4 linked regions of the Homo sapiens genome follow. The protein of the gene in region 1 purifies or fractionates together with the protein of each later gene. This does not show direct contact. Each region holds a gene or a part of one and is shown in the gene's direction. Other genes may lie near its edges.

Region 1 (7,643 bases):
CTAATTTTTGTATTTTTAGTATAGACGGTGTTTCGTCACATTGGCCAGGTTGGTCTCGATCTCCTGACCTCGTCATCCGCCCGCCTTGGCCTCCCAAAGTGTTGGGATTACAGGTGTGTGTGTTTATGGCCACCGTGCCTGGCCATAAACATCAGTTTCTAAAAAAAAAAAAAAAGAAAAATATCTAAACAAGAACAGCATCTTCTTCCATTTGAATTTTTTTCTCCAAGAAATTCTGAGCAGATTATCCCTTTACCTTTTTTTCCTTTTTTTTTTTTGAGACAGGGTCTCACTCTGTTGCCTAGGCTGGAGTGCAGTGGCACAACTTTGGCTCACTGCAACCTCCGCCTCTGGGGCTCAAGCAATCCTCCCGCCTCAGCCTCTTGAGTAGCTGGGACTACAGGCACATGCCAGCATGCCCGGCTAATTTTTATATTTTTTGTAGAGATGGGGTTTTGCCATGTTTCCCAGGCTGGTCTCGAACTCCTGGGCCCAAGCAATCTGCCCACCTCAGCCTCCCAAAGTGCTGGGATTACAGGCATGAGTCATTGCACCTGTCCTGCCTTTTTTTCCTCCCCTCCCCTCCCTCTCTCTCTTTCTCTCTTTCTTTCTTTTTGATGGAGTCTCGCTTTGTCACCCAGTCTGGAGTGCAGTGGCGCAATGTCGGCTCAATGCAACCTCTGCCTCCCGGGTTCAAGCGATTCTCCTGCCTCAGCCTTCCCAGTAGGTGGGATTACAGGCATGCACCACCATGCCTGGCTAATTTTTGTATTTTTAGTAGAGACGGGGTTTCACCATGTTGACCAGGCCTGTCTTGAACTCCTGACCTCAAGTGATCTGCCCGCCTGGGCCTCCCAAAGTGCTGTGATTACAGGCGTGAGCCACCATGCCCAGCCTCCTACATTTTTTTTTCTGAAGTCTTACATGTTACACCTTCAGAAATGCCTTTCCTGCCCACCTAATACTCAGAGTTAACACTCATATTGCACTCACTCTGTGCTAGACAATGTTTTTTTGTCTTTGTTTTTTGTTTTGAGACAGAGTCTCACTGTCACCCTGATGTAGTACAGTGACACAATCACAGCTCACTGCAGCCTTGGCCTCCTGGGCTCAAGTGATCCTCCCACATCAGTCTTTAGAGTAGCTGGGTCTACAGGTATGTGCCAGCACCAAACCTGGCTAATTTTAATTTTTTTTTTTTTTTGGTAGAGATGAGGTCTCACTATGTTGCCCAGTCTGGTCTTGAACTCCTTGGCTCAAGTGATCCTCCTGCCTTGGCCTCTCAAAGTGTTGGAATCACAAGTATGAGCCACTGTGCCCGGCCCAGACATTGTTTTAAGCCATTTTCATATACCAACTCTGTTAAACCTTTGTACAAGCCTATGAGGTAAGTAGTATTCTTACAATCTCCAGAGGAGGTAAGCATTATTATTATCTCCATATTGGAGCTGAGAAAACTGGAGTACAGAAAGGATAAATAACTTCTCCAAACCAAAATCACACAATAAGTGGTAGAGCCTGTATTTGAACTCTGCCCACATGGTGCTAGAAGCTACATCCTGTACTTTACCTCCTCTGTGTTATCAACCTAAAGTAGGCCTCTTTTTTTTGAGACGGAGTCTCGCTCTGTTGTCCAGGCTGGAGTGCAGTGGTGCGATCTCGGCTCACTGCAACCTCTGCCTCCCAGGTTCAAGTGATTCTCCTGCTTCAGTCTCCTGAGTAGCTGGGATCACAGGCACGTGCCACCACACCAGGCTAAGTTTTTCTTTTTCTTTCTTTCTTTTTTTCTTTTTCTTTTTTTTAAGACGGAGCCTTGCATTGTCACCCGGGCTGGAGTGCAATGACGCTATCTCAGCTCACTGCAACCGCAACCTCCATCTCCCAGGTTCACGCAATTCTCCTGCCTCAGCCTCCCAAGTAGCTGAGATTACAGGCACACACCACCATACCCGGCTAATTTTTTGTATTTTTAGTAGAGACAGGGTTTCACTATATTGACCAGGCTGGTCTCAAACTCCTGACCTCATGATCCGTCCGCCTCGGCCTCCCAAAGTGCTGGGATTACAGGCGTGTGCCACCATGCTGGGCCCTTTTTTTTCCCCCAAAGGACACAAGTACAGGTAAGAAAATGTAGTTTTTTGTTTTTTTTTTTTTTTTAGACAGGGTCTCACTTTCTCTCCCAGGCTAGAGTGCAGTGGTGGGATCTCAGCTGGTCAGGAACTCCTGACCTCAAAAAGACCTGCCCGCCTCGGTCTCCCAAAATGCTGGGATTACAGGCGTGAGCCACTGTGCCCAGCCAAAGGTAGACCTCGTCTACTCCATTTTTCTTGCTTATAGTACCTCCTATTTTCCCTTTTGAGTACTAATCACAATTTGCAATTAAATATTTGCTCACTGCCAGGTATGGTGGCTTACACGTATAATCCCAGCACTTTGGGAGGCCAAAGCAGCGGAATAGCTTGAGGCCAGGAATTTAAAACCAGCCTCAGCAAGACCTCACCTCAACAATTTTTTTTTTTTTTCTGTTGGCCAGGCTGGAGTGCAGTGGCACGACCTCAGCTCCCTGTAACCCCCACCTCAAAGCAATTTTCATGCCTCAGACTCCGGAGTAGCTGGGATTACAGGCATGTGCTACAATGCCCAGCTAATTTTTGTATTTTTAGTAGAGATCAGGTTTCACCATGTTGGCCAGGATGGTCTTGAATTCCTAGCCTCAAGATATCTGCTCACCTTGGCTTCACTACTGGGATTACAAGTTTGAGCCACTGCACCCGGCCTCAACAAAAACAAAAATTTTAATTACCTCACCCTATGCATCTCTTCATTTGTATCCTTTGTAATATCCTTTATATTAATAATAAACCAGTAAATGTAAATAAATAAATAAATACTGTTTGTCTCTTCCCAGCAGATTGTAAGCCTGATTAGGGCAGGGATCATATCTGTTTTATTCACATCATAAGCACTGTGTAACCTCTGGTTTCTTTTCTCTTTGAGATGGAGTTTCACTCTGTGGCCCAGGCTGGAGTACAGTGGCGCCATCTCAGCTCACTGCAACCTCTGCCTCAAGCAATTCAAGTGATCCTCCTGCCTCAGCCTCCCCAGTATTTTGTATTTTTAGTAGAGATGGGGTTTCGGCATGTTGGCCAGGCTGGTCTTGAACTCCTGACGTCAGGTGATCTGCCTGCCTTGGCCTCCCAAAGTGCTGAGATTACAGGCATTAGCCACCGCGGCCTGGCCAATAGGCACTATGTAACTATTAGTTTAATGAATGAAGAAATGAATGCTTGTGGGCATCATTCATTCTGCAACAAACTTCTAAAAATTAATTTTACTTTGAAACAATTTCATACTTTCAGAGGAGTTACAAGAATAATACAAAGAAGTTCACCCAGATATCTCATTCAGGGTTAGCCAATTGTCCACAAAATATACTTTAGAGAGCAAGAGGATTAATTCCAGGGTCTCTTGAGCAACAAATATTTATTGAGCGCCTGCTACTATTGGATTACATAACAGTCTCTTAACTGGTCTCTTAGCTATAGGCATTGCACCCCCACCCCTAGTCCCATACAGCAGCTCCTTTTACTAATTTATTTTTGAGGAGGATCTCGCTCTGTCGCCCAAGCTGGAGTGCAGTGCCGCGATCTCAGCTCACTGCAACCTCCGCCTCCCAACTCAAGCGGTTCTCCTGCCTCAGCCTCCAGAGTAGCTGGGACCACAAGCACGCACTACCGCGCCAGGCTAATTTTGGTACTTTTTGTAGCTACAGATAGAATAGAGATCTTTGTCTATTTTGTTCACGAAGTACTGCAAGCGCCTTGAGCTGTACCTGGCACATCTTTGTTGCTCAGCAAAGAGTGGTTGGATAAACGAACGCTGAAGGTATGCTAGTACCAGGTACTGTTCTCGGTGCTGGAGTTACAGCAAAAAACTCCCTGCCCTCGTGGGATTCTCACTGGAAGCATGCTTAAGCTTAAGCCATTTTTCAATCTTGACCCCACCATTTTGTTCCCTGTGAGATTTGGGGTGAACTGCAGTTTCCTAGCCTCACTTTCCTATCAATCGTTACGAAGATTAAAAGGAAAAATATCATTTGTATCGCATTTAGCATCAGAAATGCTTTAATAATATTCGTTTCCCTTCCTTTCAGGCTGGAAGACTGGGGCCTGACATCTCTGCCACAGGCTTAGGCGAGGTTTTCACAGGGACTTGGAAAGGTGCAAACGGTTACTACGGCCAGGCTTACCCAATTGTTAAGTGAAGATATTCTGGAGAGTGCTTAAAAGGGTTGGAAAAACAAACCAGTGAGTGGCTAGGACCACCTACTCCGCTGTTTTGCCTCGGAAAAGCCTCGCCGGCTGCCGGGAGGTGAAAGTCTGGAGGAACGGGAGGAAAAGAGAGGGGTGGCTGTCCACAACAGAAAACTACACATCCCAGCACCCCCGCGGCAGACGACTACGGGTCCCAGCAGGTTTCGCGGGGTGGACCGAAGCGGGCTCTCTTGGGGCCTGCAGTCGGGGTTCAGCCAGAGGGGGCGCCGGGCGTACCGACGTAGCGGGGAGAAACGGGTCGCGCTTTAACGGCGCTGCGCAGGCGCCACTCACGGGCCGGACGTGACGCAGGGAAAGTTCCGGCTTCGGCCTCCGCCGCTGCCGCCGCCGCTGCTACAGCCGCCGCCGCCGCTGTTGCCGCGGCTTGTTATTCTTAAAATGGCGCCGCTAGACCTGGACAAGTATGTGGAAATAGCGCGGCTGTGCAAGTACCTGCCAGAGAACGACCTGAAGGTGAGCCCTATTTGCGGGCTCGCCCCTTCCGGCTGTGGGGCGCCCGCCGGCCGGCCCTTCCTTTCTCCAGGACCCCCGCCGGGTATCCAGTCCAGTCGCGGTGGAGGGCCTCCCCCATTGCCAGTCGACCCGGTCCTACCCGGCGTCACGCCGAGGGTCTCGCGAGCCGAGTCGTCGAATGCTGTCCCGGTTGCCTCAGTGGGGATCCCGAGGGATGTCGCGGCCTCTGTCCCAGGGTCGCCCCTTCTGGCCTTCGGGCTGCCCCAGGACCCGCAGCTGTAACAGCTTTATTTAGAAGGCTCGGCTCCCCACCCCATCCCTGGGTCTCCCGCAGTCGGAGCCGAGCCCCCGCGGCAGTGCCCTCGGGATGGGGTCGCCTCCACCGGAGGTGACAGGAGCGCGGAGTGGCCGGCGTCTGACAGGAGATGCCACCGGCTACCGGAACGCGGCCTCAGTGTGTTTAGGTCTCTGAGGAAGGGGAAGGCGGTGGGCCCGAGTGGTTTGGTACTGGCGGGAGCGAACGTCAGGTCGTCCCTCTTCATTGCCACTCCTCCAAATTGCTTTTTAGGATCGTCGGTTTTGCTAATTCAGAGGTGAATCCCGTTTCTGAGTATGTTGTTGAGCTTACTGAAGTGGATAAAGTAGTTGGTTCTCAATAAATACAAATACTTTCTCCTTAACCCCTTCTTAACTCAGTATTTCATTTTCTTCGTTTTCTAAAGGAGGTGAGTTCCTTGTTACTCCTGAGTCCAAGTAAGAGTAAATGTATGTATGGGTAAAGGAATGACTTTGGTATACTGCTTTTCTTTTTTAAAACTTTTTAATTATTATTATTATTATTATTATTATTGTTTTTAACTGAGATAGAGTCTCACTCTGTCACCCAGGCTGGAGTGCAGCGGTGCGATCTTGGCTCACTGCAACCTCCACTTCCCGGGTTCAAGCGATTCTCCTGCCTCAGCCTCCCGACTAGGTGGAATTACAGGCGCCCGTCACGACGCCCGGCTGTTTTGTATTTTTAGTAGAGACGGGGTTTCGCCATGTTGGCCAGGCTGGTCTTGAACTCCTGACCTCAAGTGATCCGCCCGCTTCGGCCTACCAAAGTGCTGGTATTACAGGCGTGAGCCACCGCGCCGGCCTAGGTATACTGCTTCTTTGAAAAGTGTTTCTATGCATTTGCTGAAATCAGAGCTTAGGTTTCTAGCAGTGCTTATCAGCTCGTGCTAGTATTTAACCGACTCAGTGTATTCTTTTTTTTTGAGACGGAGTCTCGCTCTGTCGCCCAGGCCGGAGTGCGGTGGCACCATCTCGGCTCACTGCAACCTCCGCCTCCCGGGTTCACGCCATTCTCCTGCCTCAGTCTCCCGAGTAGCTGGGACTACAGGTGCCCGCCACCACGCCTGGCTAATTTTTTGTATTTTTAGTAGAGACGGGGTTTCACCGTGTTAGCCAGGATGGTCTCGATCTCCTGAACTCGTGATCCGCCCGCCTCGGCCTCCCAAAGTGCTGGGATTACAGGCGTAAGCCACCGTGCCCAGCCCCGACTCAGTGTATTCTTAAGGAAATATATTACTGTGGGTTTTGTTTTATTTCTTCTTTGTACAGTAAGTTGATACTTAACATCAGTCAACAAGTATGCATAATATTTGAGGCCACACGTGCTGTTGTGAATGTGACTGAATTGTACTTACCTGTTAATTTTATGTGGCATATGATAGGGGAGTCATTCTTGTGCATTTTCCCGTTTTTAATAGAATAATTTCAAATAAGGACAGCCTTCGTTAGTAGTAATGTAGCATTTGTGCTCATCTGAGTCCTTCAGACATTCCTTTTGTGGCTTCTTTCTGCTATGTGGTTTTTTTAAGGGAATAAGAATACAACTAGCATTGGGACCCAATTCATGGAAAACTAACCAGACCTCTTAGTAGCATTATTAATCCCATAGGTGAGGTTGACTATTGCATGTCAGTGAATTGACATGGAATTTTTTCTTCTTATTTATCATGCATAAAGCTTTTTTGAACTTTGTGTTTATGATGAATAAAATGTTGCTTTTTATGAAAATGTGTCTAGGGCACAGTGGCGTAATCTCAGTACTTGGGGAGGCTGAGGTGGGCAGATCATTTGAGATCAGGAGTTTGAGACCAGACTGACCGACTTGGTGAAACCCCCTCTCTACTAAAAACACAGAAATTAGCCGAGCATGGTGGTAGGTGCCTGTAATCCCAGTTTACTTACTTGGGAGGCTGAGGCAGGGAGAATGGCTTGAACCCGGGAGAATTGCTTGCAGTGAGCCGGGATCACACCACTGTACTCCAGCCTGGGAGACAGAGCAAGACTCTGTCTCAAAAAAAAAGAAAAGGAAATTGGGCACTGAAATGATTTGAAAGATAATCTGGCCAGGTGCAGTGGCTCACGCCTGTAATCCCAGCACTTTGGGTGGCTGAGGCAGGTGGATCACTTGAGGTCAGGAGCTCGAGACCAGCCTGGCCAACATGGTGAAACCCCGTCTGTACTAAAAATACAAAAATAAACTGGAGGTGGTGGCAGGTGCTTGGAATCCCAGCTACTTGGGAGGCTGAGGCAGGAGAATCGCTTGAACCAGGGAGGCGGAGGTTGCAGTGAGCCAAGATTGCGCCACTGCAGTCCAGCCTGGGTGACAGAGGGAGACTCCGTCTCACCAAAAAAAAAAAAAAAAAAAAAAAGAAAGAAAAATCTGTTGGACTTCTTTGTACCTCTTAGTTTGATAAACATTAGATTTCCTTCTTACCTTAAGGAAGTACAATTTTTAGACCATTTTATTTCTTGTTGAAACATAGCTGCATTGTACTTGACTTGTATTTGTTTCTTTTTTTT
Region 2 (7,028 bases), on another chromosome or scaffold:
GTGTGTTGAGGGGCAGGGGTTAGAATTCCTGCCCTTCATCCACATCTGAGTGTAGTCCTGTCTTTAGGGAGTATAAGCCAGGAATTCTTTCCTTCCCCAGTACACAGAGGGCTCCTGCTGCCCCCTCTCCCTCAATTCCTCCTGAAGTTATGGCAGAGATGCCTCTGATTAGAGCAGGATTGAAGGTATTGTGACCTGCTACTGAATAGCGGACAAAAGCTCTAGCCTGTAAATCCCTATGAAACTTGGGGAAGGAACCCCCAGAAAGGACCAGTGATGGGCAACCCGCTCGGGTCCCCTTCTACGCTGTGGGAGCTTTGTCATTTTGCTCTTCACAATAAAGCTTGCTACCGCTCAAAAAAAAAAAAAAAAAGAAAGAAAAGAAAACCAGTGAAGCCTCCCTACTTTCCTCACTGTTCAATTTAGAGTTGTGAGGATGAGGAGGGAACCCCAATCTAGATCCCTATAGAGACCTGACAAAATTCCCAATCCGGAAGCTTGTTGCCAGGGGAACAGGGGAGGCGGGCAGCACTATTTTGAGAGCAGGTGGAAAGCGGAGGTTCAATCCAGAGACACTGAGTGTTGGGGGTAGGAGAAGGGAGCTCCAGGGGGGTGGGGGCAGCTGCAACCCCCACTTCTGTCTGCCCCCTCTGCTCCACCCTGTTTGCCTTGTATTTGTGGAAGTGAGCGTGGTGCTGGGTATTGTCTGAAAGAGTTAGCAGAGTTTCCGGTGTTGTTGGATGGGGGAGGGGAAGCTGGAGAGGGCCGGGAGCTGAGGGCATGTCTGGGAAGGGCACGGCCAGGGTCCCAGTGCCTAGGCTCAGCGAATCCTCCTTTCTTCTTCTCTCCTACCCCATGGCAAGGTGGGGTGGAGGATGGCGGAGAAGCAGATGGAGTGTGGGAGCTGTGGATTTGCCTGAGTTGGGGGAACAGGACTCCCTGGGCCTGGAAGGGAGAAGGCCAGGCTTGGTGGGGAGTTGCCTGTCCCTTCTTTACCACTGGAGCCATCAATCAGCCTTGGAGCTGCTGAGGCCCAGCCAGAGTCCAGGGCATGTGGTGCGAGGGAAGGAGCACGGCCTTTGGATTCAGGCCCACCGGAGTGTAAACACCACCTCTCCCACTAGCCGTGTGACCTCTGATGGACGATTTAGCCACTCCAGGACAGGTTCCTCATACATGAAATGAGGATAACTGAACCTCCCTCTACGGGTGGTTAGGATTAAGTAAATGTGGAACATTTACTATTATAAAAGCTCAGGGAATGTAAATTTCCCCTCTGCCCCTAGCCCCCATTCTGGCTGCCTCTGTGCCATCTTCTGTTCTGTGGGAGTCCTCTCTTCCATCTGCCATTCGCAACCACCTTCGTGCTTCTTGAGCTCATCTCTGGCAGCCAGTGACCCCTGCTCCCCTCTGGTCCGCCCTTCAGGCCACCTTGGGGTCAGGATTGCCCATCCCACTTGATTGTTTAATTTCATTCAGCACCTATACCCCCCTCACTTCATTTCCTGCTTGAAGGAAGAGGGAGGTGGGAGGAGAGGGACTGGGGTGTGGTAATGGCCCAGAAGTCGGGGAAGGGGGGAGAGTCCCCGAGGACTGTGTGGCCAGGAGGAGATGGGTGTCTGCATGTGGGTGTGTCCCCTCCTGTACCACCCGGCCCTCCCTTCACCCTCTCTACCCCACCCTCCCAGCCTGCAATGTGACTATCCACAACCGCTGTAAAGACACCCTCGCCAACTGTACCAAGGTCAAGCAGAAGGTGAGACGGCAGGGAGGGCAGAGGGCTGGGGGAGAGGGTAGTGAGTGTGCGGTACCCTCATGCCTTTTCCATTCATTCCCTACCCTGTGTTTCTCACCACCCACCTCCTCACCAAGGGGCAGCCCAGACCCTCAACCCCAGGCCTCGGGCCCCAAGTAGGCCAGGCCTGTTGCTGCAGACATGTCCCCACAGCACTGGGCTCAATCACCCTGATCCCCTTAACCATAGTGCCAGCTTTCTCCTAAGGGGGCCGGCCACCTAGCTCCTGTCCCATGCCTCTGGGGGTGATCCTTGGGTGACAGCCATTCTTGGTATCTCTCTCCTGCTCTCTGTCTCACAGCAACAGAAAGCGGCCCTGCTGAAGAACAACACCGCCTTGCAGTCCGTTTCTCTTCGAAGTAAGAGTGAGTAGTTGGGGAGTGGAGGAGGTCCCCTAAGACCCTGGACCCCAGGCTGCTCAACCCATGGGCTCTGCTGCCCCACTAAGGTTGTTCCCAGGCATAGCACCTTCCTCTTCTTGATTGGAAGCAGATAGTGGGGGCCTAAGGGAGGGTTCGGACTCTTGGACTTAGAGGCAGAAGGGGAGAGAGAGTCCGAATGGGGATGAGGGCTGGGGATGGGTGGTCGCCTGAGCCTGGCCGCAGCCTGCATTTTTATCAGTTATTTACACTGCATTTCGGGAGTGTTGGTAGCAGCTGTCAAGTGTCAATTCAGACAGCTTTGGTGTAACAGAAAGAGCATGGCCCTTAGGTATAAAGAGCAGAGCCTCAGTCCCTGCCTAGCCATTACCCAAGTCACCCTGGACAAGTCTTTTTGTCTTTCTGAGCTCCTGTTTGTTTATAGGCTTATGTCAGGGAGGAGATAAGTAAGAAAAAGCTCTTTGTGAACATTAGAGTATGGCACAAATGTAAGGTGGCATTCTCATTACCATCTTTCTTGACTAGAGGGGCTGAGGTGGAGTGAGAGGATGCCTCATTCCTCATTGAGGAGCCTAGGAGGCCTCAATCCTGGGAAGCACCAGAGTCTGATGTTTGCCTGCTGGGCATCTCTCCCCCACAGCAACCATCCGGGAGCGGCCAAGCTCGGCCATCTACCCCTCCGACAGCTTCCGGCAGTCCCTCCTGGGCTCCCGCCGTGGCCGCTCCTCCTTGTCTTTAGCCAAGAGTGTTTCTACCACCAACATTGCTGGGTGAGCCTCTGTTTGGGGAAAGGGGCAGCCAGAGAGTGTGGCAGTGGAGGCCAAGGGGGTGCTGAGAGGTCCCTTTCCATCCCTGAGTTCAGAACTGTAGACAGACAAATAAGGAGAACTTAGGGGGACCGCCTCTTGGATCCTGGCTTTGGTTCCCTACCTGGGAAGGGATCTTTTGCCCGACTGGGGGTGATGCAGACAGCCTCCACTTTCTTCAGACATTTCAATGATGAGTCTCCCCTGGGGCTGCGCCGGATCCTCTCACAGTCCACAGACTCCCTCAACATGCGGAACCGAACCCTATCCGTGGAATCCCTCATTGACGAAGGTGAGCAGGCCTGGGCCCAGGGGAGCCCTGAGGAACATGAAGAGGGGCTGGGGGATGAGAGGCTGGTGGGAGTAGCCTGGAAGGACAAGGAGGGAAGGGATCTAGAGAAGGGCCAGGGACCCAGGGAAGGGAACTCAAGACCTCTGAGTTGCTTGCCCTGCTAATGTCCAGCAGAGGTAATCTACAGTGAGCTGATGAGTGACTTTGAGATGGATGAGAAGGACTTTGCAGCTGACTCTTGGAGTCTTGCTGTGGACAGCAGCTTCCTGCAGCAGCATAAAAAGGAGGTGATGAAGCAGCAAGATGTCATCTATGGTAAGCCAAGACCACCCTAGTCTTCCTCTTCCTTCACCAGGTCCTGTTTATCTACTTCCTTCTTTATTTTTCTTTTTCTTTTTTTTTTTTTTTTTGAGATGGAGTCTCACTCTCTCAACCAGGCTGAAGTGCAGTGGCATGATCTCGGCTCACTGCAGCCTCCACCTCCCAGGTTCAAGCGATTCTCATTACAGGCGCCTGCCACCATGCTGGCTAAGTTTTGCATTTTTAGTAGAGACGGGGTTTCACCATGTTAGCCAGGCTGGTTTCAAACTCCTGACCTCAGGTGATCTGCCCGCCTCAGCCTCCCAAAGTGCTGGGATTACAGGCGTGAGCCACCGTACCCGGCTGTGTCCTTCTTTCTACCAGCCCCTACCTCTCAAAACCCTTTCCCTCTTGGCCTACAAGACCCTGCCTGGTATCCCACAGGTTGCCCACTAGGTCCCTACCTCTTGATGCTGTTGGTCTCCAACACCCTCTCTTTATCCCTTCTTTATCTCTGTCTTCAGTCTTTACTCTGTGCTTGTTCCACGCTTAACACCGTGCTGGAGACTGTGGGAAGCCTCGACATGTAGAAGACATATGGTTCTTACCCTAAAATAGCTCACAGCTTGAGATGATAAGGTGTAAAGATAAAAAATGGAACTGGGCGTGGTGGCTCATGCCTATAATCTCAGCGATTTGGGAGGCCGAGGTGGGAGGATCACTTGACGCCAGGATTTTGAGACCAACCTAGGCAACAAAGCAAGACCTCTGTCTCTAAAAAAAAAATATATATATATATATATGTATATATATATATATATATATATATATATATTTTTTTTTTTTTTTTTTTTTTTTGAAGCAGAGTCTTGCTCTGTCGCCCATGCTGGAGTGCACTGGCGCTATCTCGGCTCACTGCAACCTCCGCCTCCCAGGTTCAAGCAATTCTCCTGCCTCAGCCTCCCAAGTAGCTGGGATTACAGGCGCCTACAACTACACCCGGCTAATTTTTGCATTTTTAGTAGAGACAGGGTTTCATCATGTTGGCCAAGCTGGTCTCGAACACCTGACCTCAGGTGATGCACCCGCCTCGGCCTCCCAAAGTGCTGGGATTATAGGCGTGAGCCACCGTGCCCAGCCGTCTTTAAAAAATATTTTAAAAAACTAGTCAGGTGTGGTGGCATGTGCCTATAGTCCCAGCTACTTGGGAGGCTGAGACAGGAGGATCGCTTGAGCCCAGAAGTTCGAGGCTGCAGTGAGTTATCATTGTGCCACTACACTCCAGCCTGGGCACCAGAGTAAGACCTCATTTCTGGAAAAAAAAAAATAATAATAAAATTTTTGAAAGATAAAAATGAGGGCCGGGTGTGGTGGCTCATGCCTGTAATCCCAGCACTTTGGGAGGCCGAGGTGGGGAGATCACGAGGTCAGGATTTCGAGACCAGCCTGACCAATATGAAGAAACCCCATCTCTACTAAAAATACAAAAATTAGCCGGGCCTGGTGGTGCGTGCCTGTAATCCCAGCTACTCAGGAGGCTGAGGCAGGACAACTGCTCGAACCTAGGAGGTGGAGGTTGCAGTGAGCTGAGATCGCGCCATTGCACTCCAGCCTGGGCAATACAGTGAGACTCTGTCTCAAAAAAAAAAAAAAAAAAAGATAAAAATGATTAGAAAAGTATCTAAGATCATAATAATGCAGAATATTAACCTGGAATGGACCTTGAAAACCTCACGTGAACTGTGAGGTCCTTATCCTAGGGCCCCACGAGTTTTAGCCAAGCCAGGGTAGAGGCCAAATGTCCCAATGTCCCCCACAGAGCTAATCCAGACAGAGCTGCACCATGTGAGGACACTGAAGATCATGACCCGCCTCTTCCGCACGGGGATGCTGGAAGAGCTACACTTGGAGCCAGGAGTGGTCCAGGGCCTGTTCCCCTGCGTGGACGAGCTCAGTGACATCCATACACGCTTCCTCAGCCAGCTATTAGAACGCCGACGCCAGGCCCTGTGCCCTGGCAGCACCCGGAACTTTGTCATCCATCGCTTGGGTGATCTGCTCATCAGCCAGGTGGGAAAAGGCAGGACCCCTGGGTGACATTCATGGAAGGAGGTGTGACTGGGTTGGGCATTTCTTGGGTCCAAATTCTAGGGGTTGGAGGGGAGCCAGGGAGAGCTGGAGAAACAGGAAGCCAGCCTGTTTGGCAGGAGGCCAGAGGTGTGTCCAGTGGGTAAAGTGTGGCTTTGGGGGAATGCTGACCTAACCTTACTCGACCAACTTCTAGTTCTCAGGTCCTAGTGCGGAGCAGATGTGTAAGACCTACTCGGAGTTCTGCAGCCGCCACAGCAAGGCCTTAAAGCTCTATAAGGAGCTGTACGCCCGAGACAAACGCTTCCAGCAATTCATCCGGGTGAGCGGACCTCTCCAGATCCCATGCTCATGGCCCAAACCCACCCTCCCCAACTCATGGGGGTAGTGCCTGTGAGCTGCACCCACATGGAGGTCAGGCATTCGCCACCCGTGCAGACCATCCATACACAGATCCTGTCAGCAGTAACCCCTCAGAATGCTAGAGCACGTTGTGGTAGTTTCCCAAGTACTTTTTGCTCCTTCAGTTGGTCCTCACAACAAACCTGTGGCGTTGTTATCCCCATTTTCCAGATATGTCACCTAGGCAAGCATGAGGTAAATGGCCACGCCAGGGCCAGCACCAGAGCTCAGGCCCCAGGCCTTTCTGTTGCCCTCCCCTCTGGCCCTGAGCCCTGCCTCCTCCCTTGTAGAAAGTGACCCGCCCCGCCGTGCTCAAGCGGCACGGGGTACAGGAGTGCATCCTGCTGGTGACTCAGCGCATCACCAAGTACCCGTTACTCATCAGCCGCATCCTGCAGCATTCCCACGGTGAGTAGGCAGGCCCAGGAGAGGGCCACTGGGAGACGGCCACCTGGGGTGAGGAAAGGCTCGGTATGACCACAGGAAGGGTGGGGTCGGGTGTGAAACCCTGGGCAGCCTCTAAAGGTGGAATCAAGACACGATGGGAACTGGGGTGTGAGTGAAACTGGTTGAGCCGTTCCCCATGCCAACCCCCGGTGCCAGGGATCGAGGAGGAGCGCCAGGACCTGACCACAGCACTGGGGCTAGTGAAGGAGCTGCTGTCCAATGTGGACGAGGGTATTTATCAGCTGGAGAAAGGGGCCCGTCTGCAGGAGATCTACAACCGCATGGACCCTCGGGCCCAAACCCCAGTGCCTGGCAAGGGCCCCTTTGGCCGAGAGGAACTTCTGAGGCGCAAACTCATCCACGATGGCTGCCTGCTCTGGAAGACAGCGACGGGGCGCTTCAAAGGTCAGACCTGCTCGGCAGACTAGGCAGGAATTCAAAGTCAGATGGAGAGTGGGAGATGCCTGCAGGTCTTAGAATCAACCTCTCTTGGCCGGGTGCAGTGGCTCAACGCCTGT
Region 3 (7,076 bases), on another chromosome or scaffold:
GTATTTTTAGTAGAGACGGGGTTTCTCCATGTTGATCAGGCTGGTCTTGAACTCCCAACCTCAGGTGATCCACCTGCTTGGCCTCCCAAAGTGCTGGGATTACAGGCATGAGCCACCGTGCCCGGCCGCCACCTTTCCGTTTATCCTCTTCCGTGATACCCCAAGTTGGGTGATGATCTCACTTATTTTCTTTCCTAACATCTCTTCTTTTCGCCTCTGCACTCCAGAGAGAGTCTGTTAAAATGTCCACATCCCCCAGTCCTCCTTTCCACTACTGTAGTACAGTGCCTCCTTCCAGTTCACAAATGGTAATCTGGAGCCACCTTCAGATGGGCACATGACCTTAAAGGACAGATTTACTCTTTCGAATTCCACTGTCTTGTCCAGCCCCACCCGCCTCTGACTAAGGGCTTATACATGTGAGACAGCTGCTTTGAATGAGGAGTAAGGATCTGGTTGGTTAAAAGACAGAAATTAACAGGGATACATAACTGAACTGTGACCTCATTATCACTCTGCCTTAACCAAGTTGACTGCTACAGAATCCCCAAGGTCCAACAGGCCTACCAAGCCAATTTGCTTACTGTCCCCTACTAATTGGTTTAACTAATTACTGCCATTTAAACTTTCCTAGTTTAGTCCCTATACTTGAAACAACCGATTTCTTCCCATGTCTCCACCATTCTACATCAATAACTTCCTTCAAGTACTGACTCAAAACACACCTCCTCCAGGAAGACCCTCTTGACTGAACCCTTCCTTCAACATTACTCTGAACACATAATGCCATGTAATCTAGCATGTATCCTATATTCTGTAGTTGTTTCACATGTATATGTATGTTCATCTACTAAGTTATAAGCTCCTCATAAAGAGACACCATTACTTCTAATTTTTGACCTCCCGACCAATTAGTACAGGGCTGTACATCGGGTGAGTCCTCACATTTAGTCAGAAGAAGGAAAACTGAGGCTTAAAAATAGGCAGCCATCTGTCTAGAGTTACCCAAATATGAATGCTTGTAGTTCAATCCAGAAGGACTGTCCATATAAGAAGGTTTTATCACCACTTCTGGCCTCCTCCTCCCATACCCTGTGTGTCTCCCTGAGCCCTGAAAGTATCAGTGTTCCCTACATCAAATCCCTTTTTTTCCTACTGGGAAATCCTCTTTTGATGCTCTAAATAATATTAAAAATAACTCTTCTAGCCCGTCCTCCTCCCTCCAATTGCCCAGAGAACCAGGCTGGCAACCTCTCTTGTTCACCTCCATCCCCTAGCCAGAACCGGGCACGTGACCCCAGCTGAACCCCTGACTCCAATTCCTCAGGTTACCTAGAGTTATTTTGGGCAATGGATACCATGTATGCCCCTCCTCCTTATCCTCTGGGCCATATCCTAGTTTAGCCCTTCCTGGAAGGCCCATCATACCCAATAGCCAAGTCCCAACACCCATATCCATTTGATCCTTTGCTACCTTTGGTTTCTGCTGCTGCTTCATCATCATCATCAGTCATCAAATATTAAATGCCTGTTTCTCTATACTGATATTCTGGAGCTTAAAAAAAACTATACCTGGCTGGGCACGGTGGCTCACGCCTGTAATCCCAGCACTTTGGGAGGCCGAGGCGGGCGGATCACGAGGTCAGGAGATTGAAACCTCCTGGCTAACATGGTGAAACCCCATCTCTACTCAAAGTTAGCCGGGCATGGTGGCAGCACCTGTAGTCCCAGCTACTGGGGAGGCTGAGGCAGGAGAATGGCATGAACCCCAGAGGCGGAGCTTGCAGTGAGCCGAGATCCCGCCACAGCACTCCAGCCTGGGCGGCGACAGAGCGACACTGGTCTCCAAAAAAAAAGGTGAAATGAGAAACAAAGGTGTACAATTTAACCAGATTGTGGCAGTATAAACTAAGTATGTAAGTGTTAAGGAGAACTAACAAAAGGAAAAGAGCCTATTAGCCAGAGGAGACTTCCTGGAAGAGGTAAGTTTAAATTTCTTCATAATTTTTGTGTGTGCATGGAATCACGGAGTGATTGCTCCTAAGCAATATTTTAACTTTTATTTTCAATATGGTAAAAATTTAAAAAATTCCAAAAGGTATATAGTGATAGGTAAATTTCTCTCTCATTCCTTATTTCCTGTACCCCAGTTTTTCTTTCTGGGAAAAAAGGACTGTTACTAGTGTCTTAAGTATCTTTCTAGCAGGAAAGCAAGGGAAGGCTTTTTTTTTTTTTTTTTTTTTTTGACATGGAGTCTGGCTCTGTCACCCAGGCTGGAGAGCAGTGGCTCCATCTCGGCTCACTGCAACCTCCGCCTCCTTGGTTCAAGTGATTCTCCTGCCTCAGCCTCTCCAGTAGCTGGGATTACAGGCGTGCACCACCACACCAGGCTACTTTTTTATATTTTTGGTAGAGATGGGGTTTCACCATGTTGGGAATGGGAAGGCTTTTTTTTTTTTTTTTTTTTTTTTTTTTTGAGACGGAGTCTCGCTCTGTCGCCCAGGCTGGAGTGCAGTGGCGCAATCTCGGCTCACTGCAAGCTCCACCTCCCGGGTTCACGCCATTCTCCTGCCTCAGCCTCCCAAGCAGCTGGGACTACAGGCGCCCGCCACCCTGCCCGGCTGATTTTTGTATTTTAGTAGAGACGGGGTTTCGCTGTGTTAGCCAGGATGGTCTCGATCTCCTGACCTCGTGATCCACCCGCCTCGGACTCCCAAAGTGCTGGGATTACAGGCGTGAGCCACCGCGCCCGGCCGGGAAGGCTTTTTTGAAATGTATTTTCGCCGGGTGCGGTGGCTCACGCCGGTAATCCCAGCTCTTTGGGATGCCGTGGCAGGTGGATCACCTGAGGTCAGGAGTTCGAGACCAGCCTGACCAACATGGTGAAACCCCCGTCTCTACTAAAATAAAAAATTAGCCGGGCAGGGTGGCGGGCGCCTGTAGTCTCAGCTACTTGGTAGTCTGAGACAGGATAATCACTGAACCCGGGAGGCGGAGGTTGCAGTGAGCCGAGATCGTGCCACTGCACTCCAGCCTGGGGGACGAGAGTGAAACTCCATCTCAAAAAATAAAATAAAATGTATTTTTATTTTTTAATTTTTTTCCTCTCCCCTCAAGGGAGGATTTTTATATATAAAGCCTTGACAGGACGCCAGCATGCTGCACTTCGTCCATTTCGTGTTCTCTTCAATGTGTATTGAGTTGTGAAACTCTGAACAGGACCCTGGATCACCTTTTATAAATTGTATCAATTTTTCAATCTCCACTTTTCGTCTTCCTCCTTTTTCCGTTTCTGGGTTGAGATGACCTCCATTCATTTCTTCTCTAATTGACGGCTCTCTGGCCTCTCCATTGGAGGAGGGGAAGCGCCACAGGCTGTTCTGGGGAGAAATTGTTGAGTGTTTTCCACTTTAACCTTGCAATGGAATCAGTAAGGAGTTGGAAAATGCCCCTTCTGTTGGTCTTGGCGGCCTTTTCCAGCTGCCAGTTGTCATGGCCTCTTTGTGGGTGTTTTCTGCAGTAGAATCCTCCTTGGGGTTTCTCTGCAGTTTGAGCACTTTTGCTATTTCTTCTCTACCGAACTCACGCCTCCGCCAGTGGAGATACACGCTTTCCCTCCCTCTGGGGCTATTGCCATACATAATTCCCAGTTCTCCACCCGCCAGTTCCTCCTAGTCTGTGGGGGATTTCGGGGTGTGGAATCGCTGACGGGAGGAGTTAGCTCGGGCGGGAGCATTGTGGGCTGGGTAAGATCTGGCCAGCCGTTCGGTCCTCAGTTTGGGAAGCACCGCGGGACTAAGGCCCAGGTTTCCGCTAGGGTCTTGTGGGGAACCCCTTGGGCCGCCAGACTGGAGCGGAGAGCACAGCGCGGCCAGCTGCGTGAGCCGGGGAGCCGGCGCGCGAGTTCGGGGGTGCAGGGGCTGCTGGGGCCGCCAGGGTGGGGCGGAGGGCGCTGCGGCCGGGGTCCGTTTGCGCGGGGAGCGCCGGGACCAGGACGGCCGCCAGGGAGCGCTGCGGCCTCCAACTCGCCCGCCCCCCGGTAGGCGGGGCCGCGCTCTCCCTGCAGCCGCCACCGCAGCCGCCGCCTGGGCCGCTCCGTGTCCCCGGTGGAGCCGCCGCCGCCGCCGCCGGGAGCTCGATGCGGACGGAGCCCGGGCCGAGCCATGGGGATCCTCAGCATCACGGACCAGGTCAGCCCTCCTGCCCTTTCCCGCTTCCTCCTTCCAGGGCTCGGCGCTGCCGTCACGCGAGCCCGGGGATGTGCGGCCTAGGCTGGGCCTGAGCCCGGGGCTCCCGCAGCTCCCGCCCCGCCCCATGCCGCGCTCCCCTCAACCGAGCCGGTGTCCTTGGGGACCTGGCAACCGGCGGAGGCACCGCGGGAGCTCGCTCCAGCCAGAATCCCTAGAGTGGAGCCCCTCCACGGACGCCCCCCACTCAAACCTAGGTGCTCCCCCACCCCCACCCCCACACCGGTTCCGCTCCGGCTCCAGCCCGCTCTCAGAATGCCGGTTCTCTCTGCAGCCGCCCCTGGTCCAGGCCATCTTTAGCCGAGATGTGGAGGAAGTGCGTTCCCTACTCTCGCAGAAGGAGAACATCAATGTGCTGGTGAGTTGGGAGCAGGGAGGATGGCGAGACCGGAATCCTGGCTCCCGTGTTCTGGACCCCTCCCCACCGGTGGGGCGGCTCCGTGTCTCCTCTGCTCAGATGAGGCCGCAGTTCTTTCCATCCTGGAGTGAAAGCCTACTCTGCATTTGGGGATGGAGAGCAGGTCAGGCTTGAAGCCCAGATCACTTGGGCTGGGAATGCCCAGGAACGTTGTTCTCTTCTCAACCTCCGGAGTCTGCAGCGCCCCCACCCCTCCTGGAAAAAGGAGCCGGCTTCTCAGCCCATTGGCCCTGACTCCACCCTCCCTAGGTGCTTGCCTTTGACTCCCAATACCGGGACTTAGGACGCTGCAGAAACTATGGGAAGAGGTTGTGGGGAAGGGCCTGGAGCTCTGAGACTTGGGCTGGGGTCCTTGATAGCCCCCTTACCCCGCGCCCATACTCCCTGCTCTTTTTTGCCTTCCCAGGACCAAGAGAGGCGAACTCCATTGCATGCTGCTGCCTACGTAGGCGATGTCCCCATCCTCCAGTTGCTACTGATGTCAGGTGAAAGTGGGGAGCTGGAAGGTGTGGCACATAGGGAGCGAAGGGAGGGGAGGAGTCTTTTTTGATATTCAAGGATTGCTCTCCCCGGCTTGGTCCAGGCGAGGCTCCAGCTCCATTCAGATTTCCTGGCCTGATTACTGGCTTCCTTCATACCTCCTCCCCACCTTCCATCAAAATAGGAAATTATATCCCCACAGGTGCTAATGTCAATGCTAAGGACACACTGTGGCTGACCCCTCTTCATCGTGCTGCTGCCTCCCGAAACGAGGTATGCACCCCCACCTTCTATTACCCTTTCAAAAAGGATAAGTTGCTTAAAGGTGGGGGTTAAGGGTTAAGGAGCCTCAGTCCTCAGCCCTACAAGCTGTTCTACCCCAGGTAGTGAGGAGATCAAATCTTGGCCCCTTCCTCCTACCCCTAGAACTGGCCAGTAAGGGGGTTGAGTGCTGCCAGCTGATGTGACTCAGGAAGAGCTTAACACTGGGCTGGCAGACTGCGGGGGCCCTGCTGCCAGGCCTGAGTGACTCATCCCTCCCTGGGGGGCCACCTTGAGTCTGATCCCCCTCTGGGCACTGAGATTTCTTTTCCTTGTGATGGAGGATGGGTATAGTAATCTGTTGCATCCTTGGCCCTCAAGCAGCTTGAAAGTTGACAGCACAGGGGCCAAACATATTTCATCAGTTGGGTCCTTTATCCTATTCCCATCAGCCCTGAAGACAGGGAAAGGGGGACCTCCTCCTCAGTTCATCACTTCCCTGGCTCCAGCCACCAGGGGGAGGGGCCGAGGCCAGTGGGAATGAGGTGGGTGGTGGTTAGGAGGGGCATTTTAGCTCGGGTTTTGCAAACGAACCAGTATCTGTTTGCTTACTGAGATACTGAAAATAATTTTGGTGCCTATGAGAAGGCTAAAGAGGGTGTTCAGGGCAAGATGTAGCAAGAGCATTTAGTTTTCCTAGAAGTAGTAGGGGGTTGGGATGTGTGGATCTCCACATGTGGATTTGTTTGGGAATGGATGTATGTGTGAGTGAAGATTTTCAGGGTCTAAGTTGGCGAGTCAGGTGGCTTGAAGAAGAGCAAAGGGTCCTTGTTTTAATCAGCAAGGTAAGGAAGAGCTTAAGTTCTAAGAAGATCCAGAAGATGGAAAGTAGGTATTCAGAGGCTAGGTATGTTGGAAAAATGAGAAGAGATTCTGTGCTGGGGAAGGGGCTGTAGATGCTATGCTGACCTATTCCTCCTTCCATTTCCTGTTGTTTTACCTCCTGCTCCCACTCTCTCTTTTGTCCCCTGCCCCTCAACAGAAGGTGCTGGGGCTGCTGCTGGCACATTCAGCAGATGTGAATGCCCGGGACAAGCTGTGGCAGACACCACTGCATGTGGCTGCTGCCAACCGGGCCACCAAGTGTGCTGAGGCTCTGGCACCCCTGTTGAGCAGCCTCAACGTGGCTGACAGGAGCGGGCGCAGTGCTCTGCACCATGCAGTGCATAGTGGGCATCTTGAGGTGAGGACTGTTCCCATCCAGGCCCAGCTGGGGCTTTCCCTTTTCTTACCTTCCTACTCACGTTTCCCTGCTTCTGGGCCCTCAAGCCTGAAGGAGAAGCAGCCCGGATGGTTATATAAACACTTAAGCTGAAGCACTAAATGAATGGTCAGACTAGATTAAAATTCTTAACTTGGACTTCAGGAGGTTGATAAAACCTTGGATTTTGCGTGGAAAATATTTGCATACACGCCTTTCTGAAGAGAGTCCATGTCTTTCAGCACATTTGCAAAGACTTACAAGAGTTTAAGAACCGGCCGGGCACGGCGGCTCACGCCTGTAATCCCAGCACTTTGGGAGGCGAAGGCGGGTGGATCATGAGATCAGGAGATCGAGATCATCCTGGCTAACATGGTGAAACCCTGTCTCTACTAAAAATACAAAAAAT
Region 4 (5,111 bases), on another chromosome or scaffold:
CACTTCCCACAATCAACTTCTGTGAACAAATGTAGCTAAGATTGTATATTCCTTCCATAAGGAATAAAATGACCTTTAAAGCTATTTCAGAGAAGTTTTAACCCCCCACCCCCACCCCATCCTCCCCCAAATCTTGCCAGCATTGTATGAGAGCATAACCAGTGGGAACCAGCAGGGAGCACTCTTTGTTGGTCCAAAATCCTGTATTCACAGTGTAGCAAGCTGTTTGTGTTCCTCCTGTGGAAATTGTAGCCAAAATAAAGCCTTTGTTTTTGTGATTAGAAATATTTTTTTTGCATATAAAACAAACAAATTAAGAACTATTTGAGCATGTTGGCTCTAGTGAAGGCTTTTGGGGGAAGAGGCAGGGTGGCCCTCTAGCACTGGGAAGCTGCCTCAACTCTGCTTCTACGGATTGGGCAAGTCACTCTCTTTCTTGGGGTTTCAATGTATTTTTTAATGGTCCTTTATAGGTCTCATTCCCAATCAATTATTTCAGCTCTCTGATTTCTACCTATAAATTTCCTTTATATTGAGGGCTGCCTAGGCAGGATCGTCCAGGTCTATCCCAGTTTGGGGCAGTTGCTTCAGGGGAATATTCTTGGTTTCTCTGTCATAAGGATGCACAAGGCTCTGGAGTCATTTCCTTGGCTTTCTGAGCACAGAAGAATTGTTTGCATAAGGGGAAGCCACTTGCTCTCCTCTGTGGCTGGGAATGCCTGCTCTGAAGAGCCCTGCCCTAACCTGCCGGGCCAAGGGATGGAGGAAAAGATGGGGTCAGCCAGTGGAAGAAGAGGGGCATCACTTGGGTCCATGCCTTTATCCATCTGTCCTTCTTTCCTCTGACACACGTTTGTGTGTGGTGGCCACTGGTCTAGGCCGGGTCATAAAGCTGCAGCACACGGACACCCAGTGGTCTCGGGGCATACTAGAGGCACATTCATCAAGAAGCCACGAAGAAGGGACAGGGGTCCATGTGAGCTGGGGTGCGGGGGAGAGGATCTCTGAGGTGACGTTGGAGTGGGCATTAGGGCAGACCTAGAGTGCGTCCTAGATTGCACGTGTTCTAAAGTGACGTATGACAGCATGGGATATTGAAGCTCACCCGTCTTTCCTGTGTGGTTCCCGTCCCAGCCAGATACCACAGTTCCTTGGATTGGCAGGCGCGCTGTTTCCTGTCACACTTAAAGATCTGCATTGCCACATGATCTCACTTTTCACAGCTGTTTTATCAAGCATGTCCTTTGTGCTTCTGATGTGCTGAGCATGCTGCACACATTATGTACTTATTTCATATGTATACTAGTGAAGCCCTGTGGGGCGTGGGGAGGGTTCTTTTCCCATTTTACAGAGGAGAAAACAGAACTGAGAGGGGCTAAGAAATCTACTTATAAGATCACTCAGCTTGTTTAAGTGAAGGCAAGTTAGTTATATACCAGTTATGTCTAGTTCCAGAAGTCTCGATTCCTATGTCTCTCATACACGGAGCCACCATCAGATGTAAGTAAGTGAGCAGAGTGGATTGTGTGTGCAGAGCTGACTTTTTGGCTCACTGTATAACCAGCAGGTATAAGGCATGAGTAGCATTCTAGCTGTAAATTGTGAATGCTAGTGGAAAAGTGCTTGTGGGCATCCCAGTTACGGCCCTAAGCACCCTTTCCCAAGTCTGCTTGATACAATTTTGGTCAAGCCTTCCCGAATAGGTTATATATTCAGGTTGTAATTTTGGCAGGAAGGCAAAACCTGGACACTTTGTTATATACTGTCCCACCTGTTATTCCCTCCCAGTTTTGAGCCTAACATTTGCTTTGTGGGACATGTTCTTCAAGTGGACACCTTTTTTTTTTTTTCCAGTAGTTTATTTGCAAACCTCCTTTCCTTTCCTTTTTTCCCCCCTTTCCTAGTAGCAGAATCCTGTTTCCAAGTGAAATAGTATGTGGATTCCAATCTGTGGGTCACATAAAAGCTTTCTTGAAGGAGCGGTGAACACATAGCTCCTGAAGGCTCTGGAAGCCACAGTTTATACCCCACTGACCTAGTCACTCCCTGTGCTTCTTGGAGGCCGCGGTGGGGCGGTTCTCCCAGAGCATTTGCTCTGCTGCTGCCCTTGCTGAATGCCTGCTCACCCGGTGATGAAGCTTAGATGCACTCACTCAGATTTTTCTAGAGCTTTTGCTCCATTCATTTACATATCATTTTATTAAAAACTTACTAAGTTCAAAACAATGTTAAAATAAGTTGTCCCTGCCCTTGGGGAGCTCAGCTAAGTAGGTTTTGTTTTTCATATTTCTGCTGCAAGTGCCTCCGATGCCTGTCTGTTGCTCCTTAGGACTGGCCAACCAAGCGCACCAGGTGACACTTCAGTGAATGGCCCTGTATGACGGGTGACGTCTGCTGCTGCTGACTGAGGACTGCAGACCGCCACCACTCAGGGGCTCTGGAGGGGTCAGCTGGAGCCCACCAAGCTGTCACTGCTGCACTCACTCTGCAAGGGATCAGGACCAGCAACCTTTATATTCTAGATTCTAAGACATTGTACAGAGAAATTCAGAAGTGTAAAAATATTGCACATTGACAAATACCAAGAATTTTTGCGTATGTTTATATTGTATTGTTCTAAATAATGGGTAGCCTGTGAAATAAGATCTTGCCACCCATGTAATAATAGTAGTAATACTATAGTTAAAATGGCTGTAAGAATAGTTTTATAAAAGTGAATACACAGATCTATTGTATTTGAAACATAACTTTGACAATTATTAGTGTGACCAAAGTATTAGGCGGTTTTCATACATTTTTCACCTTGTACAAAATTATGAATTCATTTTTCCTCCAGGCCGACAAGGAGTTGTAGAATGAAAATGCCCTCTAAGTGTTATTTTGGTTGTTCTAACTTACAAAAGTGATTTTGAATAAGAAATATTTGGTGTTCTTTTTATAACCAGTTTTTGATTGGTAATTGTTTTCTGTATTGTTTAAAACGGATCAAAAATGTAAGTCTATTGGTAGAGATTAAGTAAAGTATTTATTGCTACATCATAGTTGATAAATTGATGTTATCGTAAAGCCATATGTTCTGTTCAAGTCTTGTTTGCTTGAAATGATTATTCCTACAAGTGAAACACTAGACTATTTGGAGTGTATATGGCTTGTGTTTTGGGATTTTTTTTTTTTTTTTTTGGCTTTTGTTTTTGTTTGTTTTTTTGTTTCATTTGGTAGTTCATCTGCCTTTTAACCCATTCACCAAAATTTACCTTGTTAACAAGCATCACCAATGAACATTTCAGAGCAATCTGCATATTTAACAGACCTAAAATAAATCCTATTAGGCAAGTCAGTTGAAAATGCTCGTGCTGCTAATGGAATTAGAGTGCGTTCATTTTACAGGCTAGTATTTTAAAAGTAGAAATCAAAATCTGGCACCGAAGCATGCTAATTGTTTACTGTACCTTGTGAGGTTTTCACTCATAAATTTAAACCAGTGTATTTTTTTAGAACTGGTTTGTGTATATATATAGTGATTATGGATACTAATTCAATGTAATTTATAATTTTCTATGTCAATACAAAAATACATCACAGCCTTCTCAAACAGCTCAAGCAATATATTGTATATTGCCATATCGTCTGGTGAAAGGGTTAAATTACTTCACCTCTTGCACTTTTAGATGCAAATCAGTTTTTCATTTCTGTAATAGAAAATTATTCACGTATTTTTACATCATTTGTTTTTCCTGACCAGTATTTAAAACCAAAAGGATATTCTGAAAAATGGCCAACAATTTTTTTAGAAGTAGCATCCCAAGCAGCGTGCCTAAACATTACATTGCATATGGAAATAAAAGAATCAAACGTCTAATGCCTTATTATTTCTGATTTCCTTTTTCATTTTAAGTGGTGTGGAGATTCCAGCACTCCCAGGACAGTGGAGTCAGCAGTAAGCCCTGGGACAGGTGGCAAGGGTGGGTCCCTTGACCTTTGCACGCCTCCTCAGGAACCCCCTTTCCCGGGTGAGCCCCTCTCTGAAGAGACTGTCCTTGGGCCTCCTCTGGAAGCAGCACCCCCAGAGGACAGGGCTCCTCCTGCTTGCCTCAGGGCTGCCTGACTTGAATGGCGTTGGACCTCGGGGATTACTGGTAGATAATATGCTCTGGTCTCGCCTGGTGGTGAGTTTTGCCAGCCATGGCCAGGGTTTGGCTCCACTGGTGGCACACGTGGCCTCCGTGGTATGGACCTGGTGGCTTCTCCATCCCACTGTGGCCTCTGTGGTATGGACCTGGTGGCTTCTCCATCCTACCCAAGGTAACAGTGTCTTGCTTCATCCCACTGACTGCTGGGAGAGAGCCTCTGGGACTTTTCTTTGGGGCATCATTTTGTTTTGTCTTTCGTAGCAGGGAAAGGATATGACAATGGGGAGGACAGTTCTTTTGGAGGTTGGAGGGGCCAAGCCAAGGACAGGAGCAAGTGTGCCCTCATTTTGTTTCTACTTTTAATTTCTGTGTGTTGGCCATACTGAATTATGAGACTAACAGATGTCTACAATACAATACCTGTATTCAAAATAACAAAAATAAAGCCTGATTCTTTGTTTCTAGAAATCTCTTGTACCTTGCTTGGATTTTTAATGGGTTGATGTGTCCTGCCATTAGGTCCCGTGTTACACTAGGTCCTGTGTGAGAAAGACTGCACTGCACTGTGTGAGAGAGTGGCCTCTGGGATCAGGGGCTCATCCTCCCCACTGCCATAGCCCAGGTGCCCAGAAGAGGTGGTGCCTGACACCGGCTCTCAGTCTTGGGACGGCTCCAAGGGTTCCTCTGGACCTCCAGCTTGTTACTTTTATGTGCAGCGTGTCCCACCTATGTTGTTTGGCTCCCAGCCCAACAAGTCACAGTTAGGTGCTCCATAATGATTCTTAAGATGTGATGCTTATGTAGCTCCTTATTTTGCATTTTCCCTTCACCTGTTTGCTTAAAAACATGTTCTCTAGTCATTACCTCCTAGCAGGTCCTCTGCACAGCCTTTTGCTTTCTGGGCACGCATGCATCCCTCCGTGCCTGGGCCCACAGGCATCTCACACAGCACTGAGTACACACCTCTGCATGCTGGGCCCG

Evidence for each region.
Region 2: the proteins of PPP6C (region 1) and ARHGEF2 purify together in Homo sapiens (affinity purification with mass spectrometry; 4 studies listed by BioGRID and IntAct, with this or other methods). This does not show direct contact.
Region 3: the proteins of PPP6C (region 1) and ANKRD52 purify together in Homo sapiens (affinity purification with mass spectrometry; 6 studies listed by BioGRID and IntAct, with this or other methods). This does not show direct contact.
Region 4: the proteins of PPP6C (region 1) and PPP6R3 purify together in Homo sapiens (affinity purification with mass spectrometry; 10 studies listed by BioGRID and IntAct, with this or other methods). This does not show direct contact.

What each region holds. Positions count from the first base shown.
Region 1 is NC_000009.12:125,186,788-125,194,430, reverse strand, and holds the start of PPP6C (serine/threonine-protein phosphatase 6 catalytic subunit), read left to right. Parts: upstream 1-4,627; 5' UTR 4,628-4,712; coding exon 4,713-4,787; coding exon of another isoform or gene 4,788-4,869; intron 4,870-5,483; coding exon of another isoform or gene 5,484-5,512; intron 5,513-7,643.
Region 2 is NC_000001.11:155,961,548-155,968,575, reverse strand, and holds part of ARHGEF2 (rho guanine nucleotide exchange factor 2), read left to right. Parts: intron 1-1,688; coding exon 1,689-1,756; intron 1,757-2,096; coding exon 2,097-2,160; intron 2,161-2,815; coding exon 2,816-2,945; intron 2,946-3,163; coding exon 3,164-3,273; intron 3,274-3,444; coding exon 3,445-3,588; intron 3,589-5,392; coding exon 5,393-5,643; intron 5,644-5,857; coding exon 5,858-5,983; intron 5,984-6,353; coding exon 6,354-6,471; intron 6,472-6,666; coding exon 6,667-6,915; intron 6,916-7,028. UniProt on the Homo sapiens protein: Activates Rho-GTPases by promoting the exchange of GDP for GTP.
Region 3 is NC_000012.12:56,255,357-56,262,432, reverse strand, and holds the start of ANKRD52 (serine/threonine-protein phosphatase 6 regulatory ankyrin repeat subunit C), read left to right. Parts: upstream 1-4,048; 5' UTR 4,049-4,163; coding exon 4,164-4,190; intron 4,191-4,521; coding exon 4,522-4,605; exon of another isoform or gene 4,606-4,963; coding exon of another isoform or gene 4,964-5,071; coding exon 5,072-5,150; intron 5,151-5,347; coding exon 5,348-5,418; intron 5,419-6,448; coding exon 6,449-6,649; intron 6,650-7,076. UniProt on the Homo sapiens protein: Putative regulatory subunit of protein phosphatase 6 (PP6) that may be involved in the recognition of phosphoprotein substrates.
Region 4 is NC_000011.10:68,610,737-68,615,847, forward strand, and holds the end of PPP6R3 (serine/threonine-protein phosphatase 6 regulatory subunit 3), read left to right. Parts: intron 1-2,299; coding exon of another isoform or gene 2,300-2,329; coding exon 2,330-2,381; 3' UTR 2,382-3,895; coding exon of another isoform or gene 3,896-3,941; 3' UTR 3,942-4,598; downstream 4,599-5,111.